Homo sapiens: one gene and its partner. The protein of the gene in region 1 binds, or shares a complex with, the protein of each later gene. Each region holds a gene or a part of one and is shown in the gene's direction. Other genes may lie near its edges.

What was found. The genes of interacting proteins can lie anywhere in the genome.
Region 2: the proteins of CRHR2 (region 1) and UCN are in contact, whole or in part, in a cryo-EM structure (PDB 7TS0), measured with the Homo sapiens proteins. Residues at the interface, in NP_001874.2 of Homo sapiens: Phe68, Asn69, Gly70, Val71, Tyr73, Ile101, Leu102, Asp103, Asp104, Arg107, Asp110, Tyr113, Leu117, Asn120, Trp166 (codon at 345), Leu169 (codon at 354), Gln170 (codon at 357), Val172 (codon at 363), Asp173 (codon at 366), His174 (codon at 369), His177 (codon at 378), Glu178 (codon at 381), Thr188 (codon at 2,633), Phe191 (codon at 2,642), Asn192 (codon at 2,645), Phe199 (codon at 2,666), Phe256 (codon at 4,824), Gly257 (codon at 4,827), Lys258 (codon at 4,830), Asp265 (codon at 4,851); in NP_003344.1 of Homo sapiens: Asn84 (codon at 5,384), Pro85 (codon at 5,387), Ser86 (codon at 5,390), Leu87 (codon at 5,393), Ser88 (codon at 5,396), Ile89 (codon at 5,399), Asp90 (codon at 5,402), Leu91 (codon at 5,405), Thr92 (codon at 5,408), Phe93 (codon at 5,411), His94 (codon at 5,414), Leu95 (codon at 5,417), Leu96 (codon at 5,420), Arg97 (codon at 5,423), Thr98 (codon at 5,426), Leu99 (codon at 5,429), Leu100 (codon at 5,432), Leu102 (codon at 5,438), Arg104 (codon at 5,444), Thr105 (codon at 5,447), Ser107 (codon at 5,453), Gln108 (codon at 5,456), Arg111 (codon at 5,465), Ala112 (codon at 5,468), Asn115 (codon at 5,477), Phe119 (codon at 5,489).

Annotation. Positions count from the first base shown.
Region 1 is NC_000007.14:30,658,442-30,665,461, reverse strand, and holds part of CRHR2 (corticotropin-releasing factor receptor 2), read left to right. Parts: intron 1-274; coding exon 275-392; intron 393-2,614; coding exon 2,615-2,768; intron 2,769-3,245; coding exon 3,246-3,306; intron 3,307-4,816; coding exon 4,817-4,889; intron 4,890-5,420; exon of another isoform or gene 5,421-7,020. UniProt on the Homo sapiens protein: G-protein coupled receptor for CRH (corticotropin-releasing factor), UCN (urocortin), UCN2 and UCN3. Has high affinity for UCN.
Region 2 is NC_000002.12:27,306,883-27,313,029, reverse strand, and holds UCN (urocortin preproprotein), read left to right. Parts: upstream 1-4,584; 5' UTR 4,585-4,870; intron 4,871-5,121; 5' UTR 5,122-5,134; coding exon 5,135-5,509; 3' UTR 5,510-5,630; downstream 5,631-6,147. Other genes in the region: mitochondrial inner membrane protein Mpv17, read left to right, coding at 1-36, 258-350, 441-536, 784-816, 1,079-1,131, 3,049-3,118. UniProt on the Homo sapiens protein: Acts in vitro to stimulate the secretion of adrenocorticotropic hormone (ACTH). Binds with high affinity to CRF receptor types 1, 2-alpha, and 2-beta. Plays a role in the establishment of normal hearing thresholds.

The DNA of each region.
Region 1 (7,020 bases):
GACATTCTCACCTCCATTCTGGGGCCCAGCAGATAAAAGGGCCCGTGGAGAAAGTGGGGTTTGGGTGGGGTGCCAGGGCATGAATCACCAGCAGGCATGTGGGGTGCAGAGTGGGAGCTGGACTCAGAGGCCCAACTGTGGCCACCATGGGTGGGAAGTGGCTCCTAGTGCAGCCCTGCCCTCATCCCAGGCTGAGTCTCTACCTGGCCTCAGGGGGAACCCAGTCCCAGTTGACCCCTGAACCTGGCTGACCCCTGACCTGCACCTCCCACAGGAGCATTCGCTGTCTGCGGAATGTGATTCACTGGAACCTCATCACCACCTTTATCCTGCGAAATGTCATGTGGTTCCTGCTGCAGCTCGTTGACCATGAAGTGCACGAGAGCAATGAGGTCATTGCTCGGGGAGACTCGGGGCTATACCTGGGGGGCTCTGGGCTCCGGGGGCACCCATCTGTCTGTCTGGTCTCTGCTTGGACCCCTCCTTTGTCAGGAAGCTCACTACCTGCTAAAGCAGCCCTCTTCTTCTTGAGCAGCTTTTACTCTTACAAGCTCTTCCTAATGTTGAACTTCTGCAACTCCACCCCATTCTTGCCCCCACTCTGAGAACAGATCCCCTCTGCTCTCTCCAGGCTCTGAGACAGACCCCTTGGAGATTTGCACACAGAGACTGATGTTCACCAGTCCCTGCTACTCTCAGCTGGTGACAACTGACTTTCTGGCTGCTCCTTGGCTGACCCATGGCCAGAATGCTGTCATCTGGGCTGTGGCTCAGGTGCAAAACCAGACCTGAGCTCACCTCCACCCTAGCCATTGTCCCAACAGAGCTGGGCTGGGAGGAGCAGGAAGCTGCCAGGCTGGGAGCTTCACAAAGCTGACTCTAGACACATTTATCCTAGTCCACTCCTCATCTTGTGGATTCAGGTGCCCTCAAAGACCCCTTTGAGAAAAGGAAGCTAGAACTAACCTCTGTTGAGCTTTCTCTCACTTAATCCTAATGAGACCAGCAGGGATCATTTTCCCCATTACATAGACATGGAAACTGAGACTCACAGAGGTTAAGTGACTCGCCAAGGTCACATGCAGTGATGATACCTCTACATAAGGGGCTATCCCACATGCTAACTGTCCACTCTGGATTTCTGTCCATTGCTGTGTACTGTGTCCAAGCTATTGTAAAACTGTAGACTAGTCTTGGGCCATCACAGAGCCCTGTGGCACACCGACAGAGACTTCTCAGTACATTTCCTTTGGGTGGCCTGTGCCTGAGCAGACACCAGCCTGGTGTGATCCTTAACATGGTCCCACATAGAACACTGCCTCAGAATCAAACAGGTTCACTCGAGTTGAGGGTGCCTTCTAGCTCCAACGTGGGCTTGTGCTAATAGAACATCATCAACCCTGGATGAAAAGTAGGGTTGGGAGGAGGGGCTTGGTAGCTTCCCACCTCAGCAGGACTTTCTCAGAAAAAAGGAGACAGCCAGCCACAGGGACTGTGCAGGGAAGCCCAGAAGCAGCCAACAGCTCAGCACAGGAGGGTTATCTGAGAACTGGGGCTGTCAGAGCCAGACAGAGAGGATGGGCTGTGTGCAGAAGCAGAGCCCCTGACGCACAGCTCCCCGGACCTTGAGCTGGCTCCATCATTCCCCATGTCCCAGCCTTGGCTCTCAGGGTGCCCTGGGGATGAGCCTGTGGGGAAGATGACCAGGTGGGGTCTGTTGAGAGGAGCTCTGGCCTGGAAGCCCAATGTCTAGACCCTGGCCCTGCCATGGCCCACTGCGTGGCTCTAAAGGGGCAGGGTCTTCCCCTCCCTGCCTCCTTTGGGAAGGTAGCCTTGGTGCCTGGGGAAGGGTGGCCTTGCTCAGAGGGACAGGGACACATTCCCCTCTGCTGGGAAGGCACGGAACCACAGCAGGCACAACCACAGCCACAACACAGCTACCCTCATGCCTGTCTTTGCCATCCTCTATCTCCTTCAACCACCCTGGAAGGCAGGGTTACTTTTTGAGGTTCAGAGAGGTGCAGTGACTTGCCGGGGGCCGTGTACTTTGCAAGTCTCCCTCCAGAGCTAGTAATAATTGTGCCAAGTCCAGAAGTTCCCAAACCCAGAGTCTTTGGAGAATCCCCTCCCTGGCCGCAGCCCCACTTCATACACCCTTGACTCACTTTACTCACTTTTATTTTTTCATTTTTTTCTAAATGAAATTCCATATCCCATCCCCAAAAGGAAGCAGGTCTGACTTGCTATGGATTGAAAATGACTCAAAAAAACTAAAATGAAAACACAACAAGATGGTTGAATTCCAGCCTCTGCCTACAGAAAGCTCAGAGCCAGACTCTTGCTCTCTTTACTAGAATGAAAAATTAGAAAGAGTTAGAGAGAAGTTAAAAAAAACACGTTGGCCCCAGTGGAGAATGGCACCTTAACTTAATCTGAAAGTGTGAAAGAGCACTGGAGAAGGATGAAGCTTTTCAGAGTGAGGTTCGCTGGTATTTGATGGCATGTCCACGAACCCCCTTTGGGGAGCCCTGTGTCTTGTTGCCCTGCCTGGGGATGGGTATGTCCTACCTGGGCCCCAAGCTGCCTCCTGACAGCCTCTCTGCCCTGCACACAGGTCTGGTGCCGCTGCATCACCACCATCTTCAACTACTTCGTGGTGACCAACTTCTTCTGGATGTTTGTGGAAGGCTGCTACCTGCACACGGCCATTGTCATGACCTACTCCACTGAGCGCCTGCGCAAGTGCCTCTTCCTCTTCATCGGATGGTGTGAGGGTCCCAGGGGCAGCAGGGCCTAGTTGGGGGGAGGACTTCTCACCAGGCCATTTCCCTTCGTCTTGGGTCCAAGGACCAGAGCCTGGCCCTGCCCTCCACCCCCAGCGCAGTCCGGTGGATGCAGCTACTTCCCTCCATGCTGGTGAGGAACAAGCAAAGGATCTCTCCAAAGGATATTCCTCAAATAGCTCTTCTCCCCCTGCCAGGAAGGACCTGTCCAAAGGCCTTTGTCTCTGGCTCAGAAACTGGCTGGCTCTACTTCTCTATCACAAAATCACGCAGCCCTGCTTGGAGAGAGGGGCAGGGGCATGGGCCAGGTGTTGAGGGACAGGGCACCCCTGGGGTTGTGGGTGGCCTGCTGTTGGAAGAGTAAAAACATGATCCTAGCCCTGTTGTGGTACCCCACGGTATGTCCTACAAGAAAGTCCCTGTCCATCTGTCCCCTGCAGCCCAAGTCTTTCCTTCTTTCAGGCATCCCCTTCCCCATCATCGTCGCCTGGGCCATCGGCAAGCTCTACTATGAGAATGAACAGTAAGTGGATGGGCCAGCCATGGGGGGTCATGGGGAAGGGAATGGGGGTGTTAGGACAGGTCAGCCTTGGGCTCTGGCCAAGCCGTGGAGCAGGAATTGTAGCCACACCTAGACAGATCCACGTTCCTGTTGTCCTTAAATTGAAAAAAATAGTCCTGCACTCAGAGGTACTCACATGGTAGGGCTCAAGGAACTTTGCTGAATTAAGTTAGGAATTGTGGTTCCTTGAAGTGCCCCCCGACCCAACGCATGACCCCTTTGGTCTTTGTAAGGCCTCCTCAGACTTGGATGTGGCAGCTCTGGCCCGGGGTATGTGGAAGGGGCCAAGGCCGCACATGACATCCAGAGCTGTCCATGAGCATTTAAAGAGTCCATGAGCATTTAACAGAGCTTGTTTTTTTTTCTGAAGTCTCAGTCTCTGCCTGGGTGCAGTGTCCCATCCTGAGGTTCTCCCTATGCCAGAGGCTGTAATATGCTGAGCCACAGCCCAAATGACAGCAACTCTGGCCATGGGTCAGCCAAGGAGCAGCCAGAAAGTCAGGTGTCACCAGCTGAGAGCAGCGGGGACCAGGGAACATTAGCCTGTATGCAAATCTCCAAGGGGTCTGTCTCAGAGCCTGGAGAGAGCAGAGGGGATCTGTTCTCAGAGTGGGGGCAAGAATGGAGTAGAGTTCCAGGAGCTCAACATTAGGAAGAGCTTGTAAGAGTAAAAGCTGCCCAAGAAGAGGGCTGCCTTGGTAGGTGGTGAGCTTCCTGTCAAAGGAGGGCTCCAAGCAGAGGCCAGAAACCCTGGGAGACAGGGAGAATCCTATCTGAGGCAGGTCTGCACTGGATGACCTCCAAGATTTCAGAGGAATGAGTTCCCCAAAGTTGATGGCCCCTCCCTGTGGTCCAGTAGTTGCTGGCCGACCCAGACCCTAAAGCATTTCCCCTGACCAGCATCCCCGGAGAATGAATTATGCCTCTGGCAGCCAGTGAGGCCAGCCAGGCAGCAGCTCCCCTCACTGGGTGCACAAGCATTGGCTCAAAGACGCAAAATCCCAGGCTGGAGGTAGGAAGGCTCCACTTCCACATCTGCTGCTTTGTGTGGCCGAGTGAGTGCCTGGCACACGGAACAGCGGGTTTCAAGCAATATGGGAACAGGTGGCCTAAGGCAATTGGCCCTGGGCCAGCAAGGGGGAGCCCAGCTCTCCCTTTATTCCTGTGCCTCCTGCATGCCCAGTCCTATGCCTAGCAGTCTGCAATGGGGCAGGTAAAAGAGGAGGAGAAAGAGACCCATGGCCTGTCCTCAGTCGGGCTGGGGAGATCAGACCCACCATGTAGAGCAAAAGACAGCCTGGTGGGTAAGGGTGGTCAGTGGAGCTGGTATTTCCACCAAGGCTTTCTGGGAAGGGGCAGTCCTGGAGATTGGGTCTCAGGAAGGGTAAAGCTGGAGGACCCTGGGCCCAAGTCTGTGGGGGTCCCCCAGTTCCAGCTCAGGAGGCCCCCTACAGCCACCCCATCTTCACAGGTGCTGGTTTGGCAAGGAGCCTGGCGACCTGGTGGACTACATCTACCAAGGCCCCATCATTCTCGTGCTCCTGGTAAGCCCTCAGCGGTGGCTGGGATGGGGCTGGGTGCCAAGAGGACAGAAGAGGGCCCACCCAGGCAGAGACGCTGGGAAAGATGTGGCATGGGCAGCCCTGCGCACACACTCTATATGCCACCCCCGTACCCTGTCCATGCCACCCTGTGCCCCAGCACCACCCGGCCTTCCCTTCCTCATGCTCGATGCCCTGGCGCAGCCCTGCACCACTCTGCTGACCTCAGGGCTCTTTCTCTGGGAGGAGAAAGGATCTGATGGGTAGACTTCCTGTGCCCTCCCGGTCTGACACTGTACAATGCTGAGAAAGCCAGGTGAGCAGGCAGCTGGTGACAAGAGAAGAGTGTGCGGGCTTCTGTTCATTCCAGACCTACGTTCCCCTCAGCCCCCAGTGACCCTCTCCAGGTCCAGCCCACCACCCCCAGCCTGAAGCGGTGAATACCGGGATGCAGCATAATGAGGAATTGTTCCTTGTCCAGCTCCCTGCCCTTTGCCAAATGTATTTGCATCTAAGGTATAATTGCCACACATCTTTAATCCACAATGAGCTTTAATTAAGAGAGAGTTCAAGTAGAGGCTGCATTCTGCAAAAGGAACCCATTATATATCATACCTTTAAAAAAAAGAGAGAGAGATAAAGAAAGAAAGACATACAAAAAAGCCCCGTAAGAAATTGGCATTTACGTAAGACTTATTTCAGGCTCAGTAATTTCAGGCTCCTGTATGTACCAGCTTCCTTAAAGGGCCACAGTTCCTTCTGGGAGACTCAGCGAGAGTGCCATCTCCTCCTGCACACAGAAGGTGCCTGGTGGGGCTTTCTTTTGTCTACCTTGGAGACAATTATTATTTATCTCTTTTATTTTCTTACTCTCCTTTTTCTGTGACTTCGGGTTTCATTTGACCTCCATCTTTGGAGTGTCCTTGATATATGTGAACTGATGAAGACTAGGAAGGTTTTTCACCCACTGCTGGAAATTCCACCGTCAGGGCTTGGTTCGCTTCAGAGGCAGAAGCCAGGTTTTGTCAGCAGCTAGTAGGATTGTCCTTGGACTCCCAGCTGCAGTGAGTCACTCACCCCTCAGTGTGTATGGAAACCCCATGAGATCCTTTCCCTCCCAACCAGCTGCCAAGGGCCATCCTGGAGGAATAAGGCTTTTGATGAGCCTGGAACTGAGCCAAGGAAGGCTGGCCTGGATGGGGGACCAATGGTGGCAAAGAGTAAGCCCCAACTGTAAAGATGTTGGAAGGGTGGTGAGGAAATGCCAAGAGAAAGGGAGGCGAGGAACGCAAGAGCTCAGTGTCAAGACCCAGCTCCATGCTTCCTCTTCCAGACCCATTCTCTGGCTCCACCCCTGCGTCTGTGCTCACGAGCCCTTTCCTTCTTTCCTTTGGGCCCAGCTCTTTGCACCAACAGGGGCTTCCACATTCCAAGCTGAGCCCTTCCAGAAGCTCTATCTACATTATTTCCAACCCTTGCATGCTCAAGTCCTAAAAGAAGTAGGGTTATGCTCTCCATTTTACAGAGGAAGAAGCTGAGAGAGATGAAGTGGCTTGCCCAAGGTCACCACTAATAGCTAGCAGAGCAGAGGCTCAAAGGCAGGTCTCCTGCTTTGTCCCCACCATCTGCCTGTTGTCCTCGAGGTTGGACACGTGTTTGGTGTTCCTGCCATCCCTACACTCCCCAGCAGCTCACAGCTGCATTTCTGCTGCTAAGAGACACTCACTTATTTCTGGTTCTGAGAAGTGAATCAGGTGGTTGAATTTGCAGGAAGCCTGACTTCTTGCTGGTGTTGTCATTGTTGGTGTCATGGGAAAGGATTGGCAGTCACTAGGCCAGACACAGGTCTTAGTGGTCTCTGTGACTATTTCAGCCCATGCTGATCTTCTAAGGCAAGCTCTGTGGTTAGGCCCCTCGGGGGCAGACAAGGAAGCAGGAGCTCATGAGGTTAAGCAACTTACCCAAGGCCACACAACTGCAAATTGGAACAGTCAAAATTTGAGCCATGAGACTAGGACTTGGTGCTTCAGTTCATTTGGGAGGGGGGCCTCATCTTCAGTTCTTAGCCCATCTGCCATTTCTCCAGGTCTTTTTGACACCTTAGGAAAGATGTCATCTCCCCCACCCCCAACCC
Region 2 (6,147 bases), on another chromosome or scaffold:
ACTCTGACCATGGTGTCCCTGGGCTGTGGCTTTGTGGTAAGTTCTCCCCTCAACAGGGCTTCAGTGGACTCAACAGTGGTCTTAGTTCTTTGCCATCCTTTGGCTTCCCTTGGACTCTCACACCTAAGCCAACCTGCCGCCCTCTTTTTTCTTAGTGTCCACTTCCCCTATTCTGATACTTGGGGCAGGGAGCTTAGTGAGGTAGAGGCCTAGGGCTCCCTCACTGCAGCCTGCTGCTATCTGGGGTTTACTTCCAGGGCCCTGTGGTAGGAGGCTGGTACAAGGTTTTGGATCGGTTCATCCCTGGCACCACCAAAGTGGATGCACTGAAGAAGATGTTGTTGGATCAGGTGAGCAGGAGAACAGAGTGGGGAGGGTGAGCTGTGTTGGGGGTAGGTGGGGATTTCAGCACTCATAGGACTTTAATTTCTCTTCCCTAGGGGGGCTTTGCCCCGTGTTTTCTAGGCTGCTTTCTCCCACTGGTAGGGGCACTTAATGGACTGTCAGCCCAGGACAACTGGGCCAAACTACAGCGGGTGAGCTGGGCAGGTGTGGAGAATGTCTCTGGCTGGCGGGCTGACAGCCCAGGGGAAGAAGACAGGTTTTACAGGGATAAAAAAGGGGGTAAGTGCAGGTAGGGCCCCAGGCCATGGAGGAGAGGAGCTGAGGGTTATGGTGCAGGAATGTGCTCTTTGAACCCAAGTCTGTGTGTGACATTCATACTGGGAAGTGGGAGCTGCTTGGAGGCGCAAGTGTTAATTTGTTCCTTCTCTGTCTCCCCAGGATTATCCTGATGCCCTTATCACCAACTACTATGTAAGAGCTGACACCTCAACTGCTTGTTCTCCTGCTTCCTTAAGTCTAGAACTGTCCTGGGATTGGGGGGTCCTCCTGACATGGGAAACCCTTCCGTTGGGATTACTCTTTCATTCCCAGGATGGGCACCATAAATAGGGAAGCCATCACCCAACTGTTCACCTTTTTCTTGTGTGCAGAAGTTGGGGTAGGGCCAGGCAAGACAGTGAGTCTGGGGTCAGGTGGTGGGGCAGCCATCCAACCTTTACATTTTCTCTTGCAGCTATGGCCTGCTGTGCAGTTAGCCAACTTCTACCTGGTCCCCCTTCATTACAGGTATGTTGCACCCCTACCCCACCCATCAAGGAAGACCCACGTTACCAACAGTTGGAGACAAAATGATTCTCATTTCAACCTTGAGCTACCTTAGACCCCCAAACGGAACACTGAGCCGTGATCAGAGTTCCTCAGATTCCCAAGCGTGTTATTCAGAATGTCTTGCCATTTCCGGAAACTGTCCCAGAGTGTCTGCCCACTGACCTTCTTCATCTCCCTAGGGAGGATCCTGCTTCTACCACCCTTGTCTCCATCCCACCTGAGCTCCGTCTTTGATGGCATATCTGGAGGGACAGTGGCTGGGGTGCTGCAGCCTAGGTTAGACAGAGAGGTAGACCAGAAGGCCAAGTAGGAGCCTGGTCAGACACTCACAATAAAGACAGTTGCTGAACTGCACCCAAAAAGATAGTGGCACTGAAGATGTGTGGTTCAAATGCTTGAAGGTGAAGGATCGTGGGAACAGGGGAAAATATGGAACGCTTCAGAGGGAACAGGGCCAAAATGTACATGAGTAGCATAGCTAAAACGAATACAGACTGGCTGGGCACGGTGGCTCACACCTGTAATTCTAGCACTTTGGGAGGCTGAGGCAAGAGGTTTGCTTGAGTCCAGGAGTTTCACACCAGCCTGGGCAATATAGTGAGACCTCATCTCTACAGAAAATACAAAAAATTAGCCAGTCACATGGTAACATGTGCCCGTAGTCCCAGCTACTCGGGAGGCTGAGGTGGGAGGATCACTTGAGCCTGTGAGATGGAGGTTGCTGTGAACTGAGATTGTGCCACTGCATTTCAGCCTGGTGACAGAGTGAGACGACCCTGTCTCCAAAAAAAAAAAAAAAAAAAAAAAAAAAAAAGGCTGGACACAGTGGCTCACGCCTGTAATCCCAACACTTTGGGAGGCTGAGGCAGGTGGATCACAAGGTCAGGAATTCGAGACCAGCCTGGCCAATATGTTGAAACCCTGTCTCTACTAAAAATACAAAAATTAGCTGGGTGTGGTGGCAGGTGCCTGTAGTCCCAGCTACTCGGGAGGCTGAGGGAGGAGAATCGCTTGAACCTGGGAGGCGGAGGTTGCAGTGAGCCAAGATCTTGCCACCGCACTCCAGCCTGGGCAACAGAGCGAGACTCCGTCTCAAAAAAAACCCGAAAAAACAAAAAAGGAATACAGACTTATGAACCAAATCCTAAACATTAGGGTCCTTTGCAACACTCTTTGAAACCAGAGCAAGGTTAATTTAAAACAGAAAGATGCTACTTTATATGATAGTCCGTACATTTCGGAAGATGAAATCTCAGCTGGTACAAGACAGATCAATGAACTTAGAAGGGGCCCAGATAGGGGCCCTTTCTGTGATTAACAGAGCTATGCATGGCAAGAGAGCCGCTGAATATTTAGCCTTTGAGGCTCTCAGCCAGGAAACAGAGCTCTGGGATGGCACTAGAATTTGAGCCAGTTGTCCTTTAGTGCAAGCCACACAGGCCCTTCATAGGGTGCTGAAAGGGCTGGGTGTCGTGGCTCACACCTGTAATCCCAGCACTTTGGGAGGCCGAGGTGGGTGGCTCACTTGAGGTCAGGAGTTCGAGACCAGCCTGGCCAACATGGTGAAACCCTGTCTCTCCTAAAAATACAAAAATTAGCCAGGTGTGGTGGAGCACACCTGTAGTCCCAGCTACTTGGGAGGCTGAGGCACGAGAATTGATTGAACCCGGGAGGCAGTGAGCCAAGATTGTGCTACTGCACTCCAGCCTGGGCAACAGAGGAGACTCCATCTCAAAAAAAAGGTGCTGAAGGAAAGAGACCTAAACCTGCCAATCCTTTGTCATGATCCCTCCTTTGCCATTTCATGCTCCCATCTCCAGCCCTTGCTCACTGCTTAGCCTTCCTCCTCTTCATTGTGTTATTCCTGTTCCTTAGGTTGGCCGTTGTCCAATGTGTTGCTGTTATCTGGAACTCCTACCTGTCCTGGAAGGCACATCGGCTCTAAGCCTGCCTCACTCCATCGTTTCCACCTTGCAGTGATGCAGCTTGACCCTGGAACGGTCAGACAACCTCCTCAAAGTGGGCATACCAGTTTCCACGGGGTTGGGTTGCCGGTCAGAGCTTAAGAGGACTAGCACCCTGCAATGCCCCTCTTCACTCTAAAATGTACACTGACTGCTTTAGAGCCCTTGATAATAGTCTTATTCCCACCACATACTAGGCACTCCATAAATATCTGTTGAACCTTCATGACCTTATCAACTTTACACCCATATCCCAGCAAATGCCACTCATCCCCACTCTTCATAGACACATTTGTTACTCTAACCCTGCCTAGGCTTCTTGTAGCTCCAGCTCTTTAGAGACTCCCGGAACCCTTTATATGGTGCCTCAGTAAATATGTTATTAAATATGTAATCCGGAATCTGCAGTGGTAATGAGTAAGTTTTTAAGCAGAAAACTATTGGGGAGTCATTTCTAGAGCTGGAAAGAAGCCAAGAGACCACCAAGCCCAATTTTTTTTTTTTTTTTTTTTTTTTTTTTTGAGACAGGGTCTTGCTCTGTCTCCCAGGCTGGAGTGCAGTGGCGCGATCTTGCCTCACTGCAGCTTCCGCCTCCTGGGTTCAAGCAGTTCTCCTGCCTCAGCCTCCTGAGTAGCTGGGACCACAGGCGCATACCGCCACGCCCGGCTAATTTTTGTATTTTTAGTAGAGATGGGGTTTCGCCATATTGGCCAGGCTGGTTTCAAACTACTGACCTCGTGATCCGCCTGCCTCGGCCTCCCAAAGTGTTGGGATTACAGGCGTGAGCCACCGCGCCTGGCCAAGCCCAGTCTTACAAATGAGGACCCTGAGGTTGGTAGGAGGGAGGTGACCTGTCCACACCAGGAGTTAGCAGAAACTTGAACCCATATTTCTTTGCTGCTCATGGGCAGAGTTACACTGCTGCTATGATTCCCAGGAGAGAAACTGAACTTTGCTAAACTACTTTGGCAAACTCAAAAGCAGATGGGCCAGCCATTTGTGGTCTGAAAGCACTCGGATGCTAGAGACCCTCTGTTACATGGTGCCTGTCAGACAGCCCTACAATTTGGATCCTGGGGCTGGAAAAAGATAAGAATGCTGGGAGACTTTGGTTGTGGCAGACTGCCTCTCAGTGGGTCCCACTGTGTTGGCTGAGTGCCAGCGGTGGACTCCTGATGCCTGCATTTGCAGAACTGATAGCTGCAGGGAGGCAGTGGGTTCCAGCGGCACAGCGTTCTCACATTTCTGGCCACTTCTAGAGGCAGAGGACGGGGTCAGCACCATGGACAGCCTCACGGTCCCGCCTCCCTTTCGTGTGTCAGAACACGCGACCCGGACTAGTCTGGTCTGGGGACGGCCCTAGTCATTGCTGGCTGTTCTAAGCGGGGCGAGGGACTCCCGTGGGTCCCAGAGCAGTCTTTACGCCCCAGCCGGCTTCTCGCTTTCCTGCGTCCAGTGCTGCTTCCAGCGCTAGCCCCAGGGGCACGAAGGCTGGTGTAGGGAGGTGCGCCCCTCCGGGGGCCCGCCAGCCGTCAGACTCGAAGCTGTGGCTGTCATTGCTTCTACAATCAGTGCATGTTCTTCGCTGACGTCAGTCGGAGCTGTCCTGGCACTATATAAGGCTGGCGACAGCCCCGGGACAGACCCTGTGTTCCCCAAGGCGTCTTCAGCCTGCCCCGAGGGACAGAGACTGGAGCTCAATCTTGGACCGTACAGACGCTCGCCGACAACCTGTGAGTGGCTCAGAGCGTCCGCCCAGCCTCCCCCTGCACCAGGACTCCGCTCAGCTCAGCCACCACGCTCCTCCGGGGAGGGAGGCTGGGTGGAAGGGATGGAACAGCACTGGCGCAGTGGCTGGGGCTGGAGGGCAGGCTGCGGGCATTGGGCGGCGGCCGGAGGGGTCGCCGGGCGAGCGCGGGGAGGGGAGCGGCGGCCTGCAGCTGTCCCAGGCGCACCTCACCCTGCGCTGCCCCTGTGTGTCCAGGGCCGGCGGCACCATGAGGCAGGCGGGACGCGCAGCGCTGCTGGCCGCGCTGCTGCTCCTGGTACAGCTGTGCCCTGGGAGCAGCCAGAGGAGCCCCGAGGCGGCCGGGGTCCAGGACCCGAGTCTGCGCTGGAGCCCCGGGGCACGGAACCAGGGTGGCGGGGCCCGCGCGCTCCTCTTGCTGCTGGCGGAGCGCTTCCCGCGCCGCGCGGGGCCCGGCCGATTGGGACTCGGGACGGCAGGCGAGCGGCCGCGGCGGGACAACCCTTCTCTGTCCATTGACCTCACCTTTCACCTGCTGCGGACCCTGCTGGAGCTGGCGCGGACGCAGAGCCAGCGGGAGCGCGCCGAGCAGAACCGCATCATATTCGACTCGGTGGGCAAGTGATGGCCCGGTTTGGGGCTGCGAAAACGTTGACCCCTTTCCCCCACCCCAGAGTTGGGATGCGGGGCAGAGCCACCAGGGCACTGTCTGCGTGACTATTTTTTAATAAAAGTACTGAAGACCCGTTGGCTTTTGTCGTAGAGGCAGGGCAGTCACAGCAGCGTGGGAACCCGTGGGAAGGTGGGGCCCCCGGGCCAGCGGGAGGGGAACAAAATGCTGTGGGGGGCTCCGAGACAGCGGCTTTCAGCCAGGTCAGCCAGGTGCATGTGGACCCCAAGGGTCCCCAAATCCCCAGGACCTCAGAGGTCCCGGCACCACCGCCCCGCCCTCGGCCCTCTTCCCAGGGCGCTGGGCTCACCAGTTCGCTCCTGGCATCACAGAGGTGCCCAATAGGGGTTCATTTGGCTTCCGCCCCCCAGACGGTCTCAGGTTCTGGGAAGGGCAGGATGGTGGGCGGGTCGCCTTCGAAGCCCAGGCTGCGGGGTTGGGCAGCGAAAGGAGATACGGGTCTGGGACGCTCGAGTTCTTTATTGAGATCCTCCCGGGGCCGGCGCCGATTTGGGTGATGCTGCGGTCTCTGCGCAGATCCTCCCCGACTCTAGCGCGGGCTCTCGAGCAGGGTCGGGTCGGCGCAGGCCTGT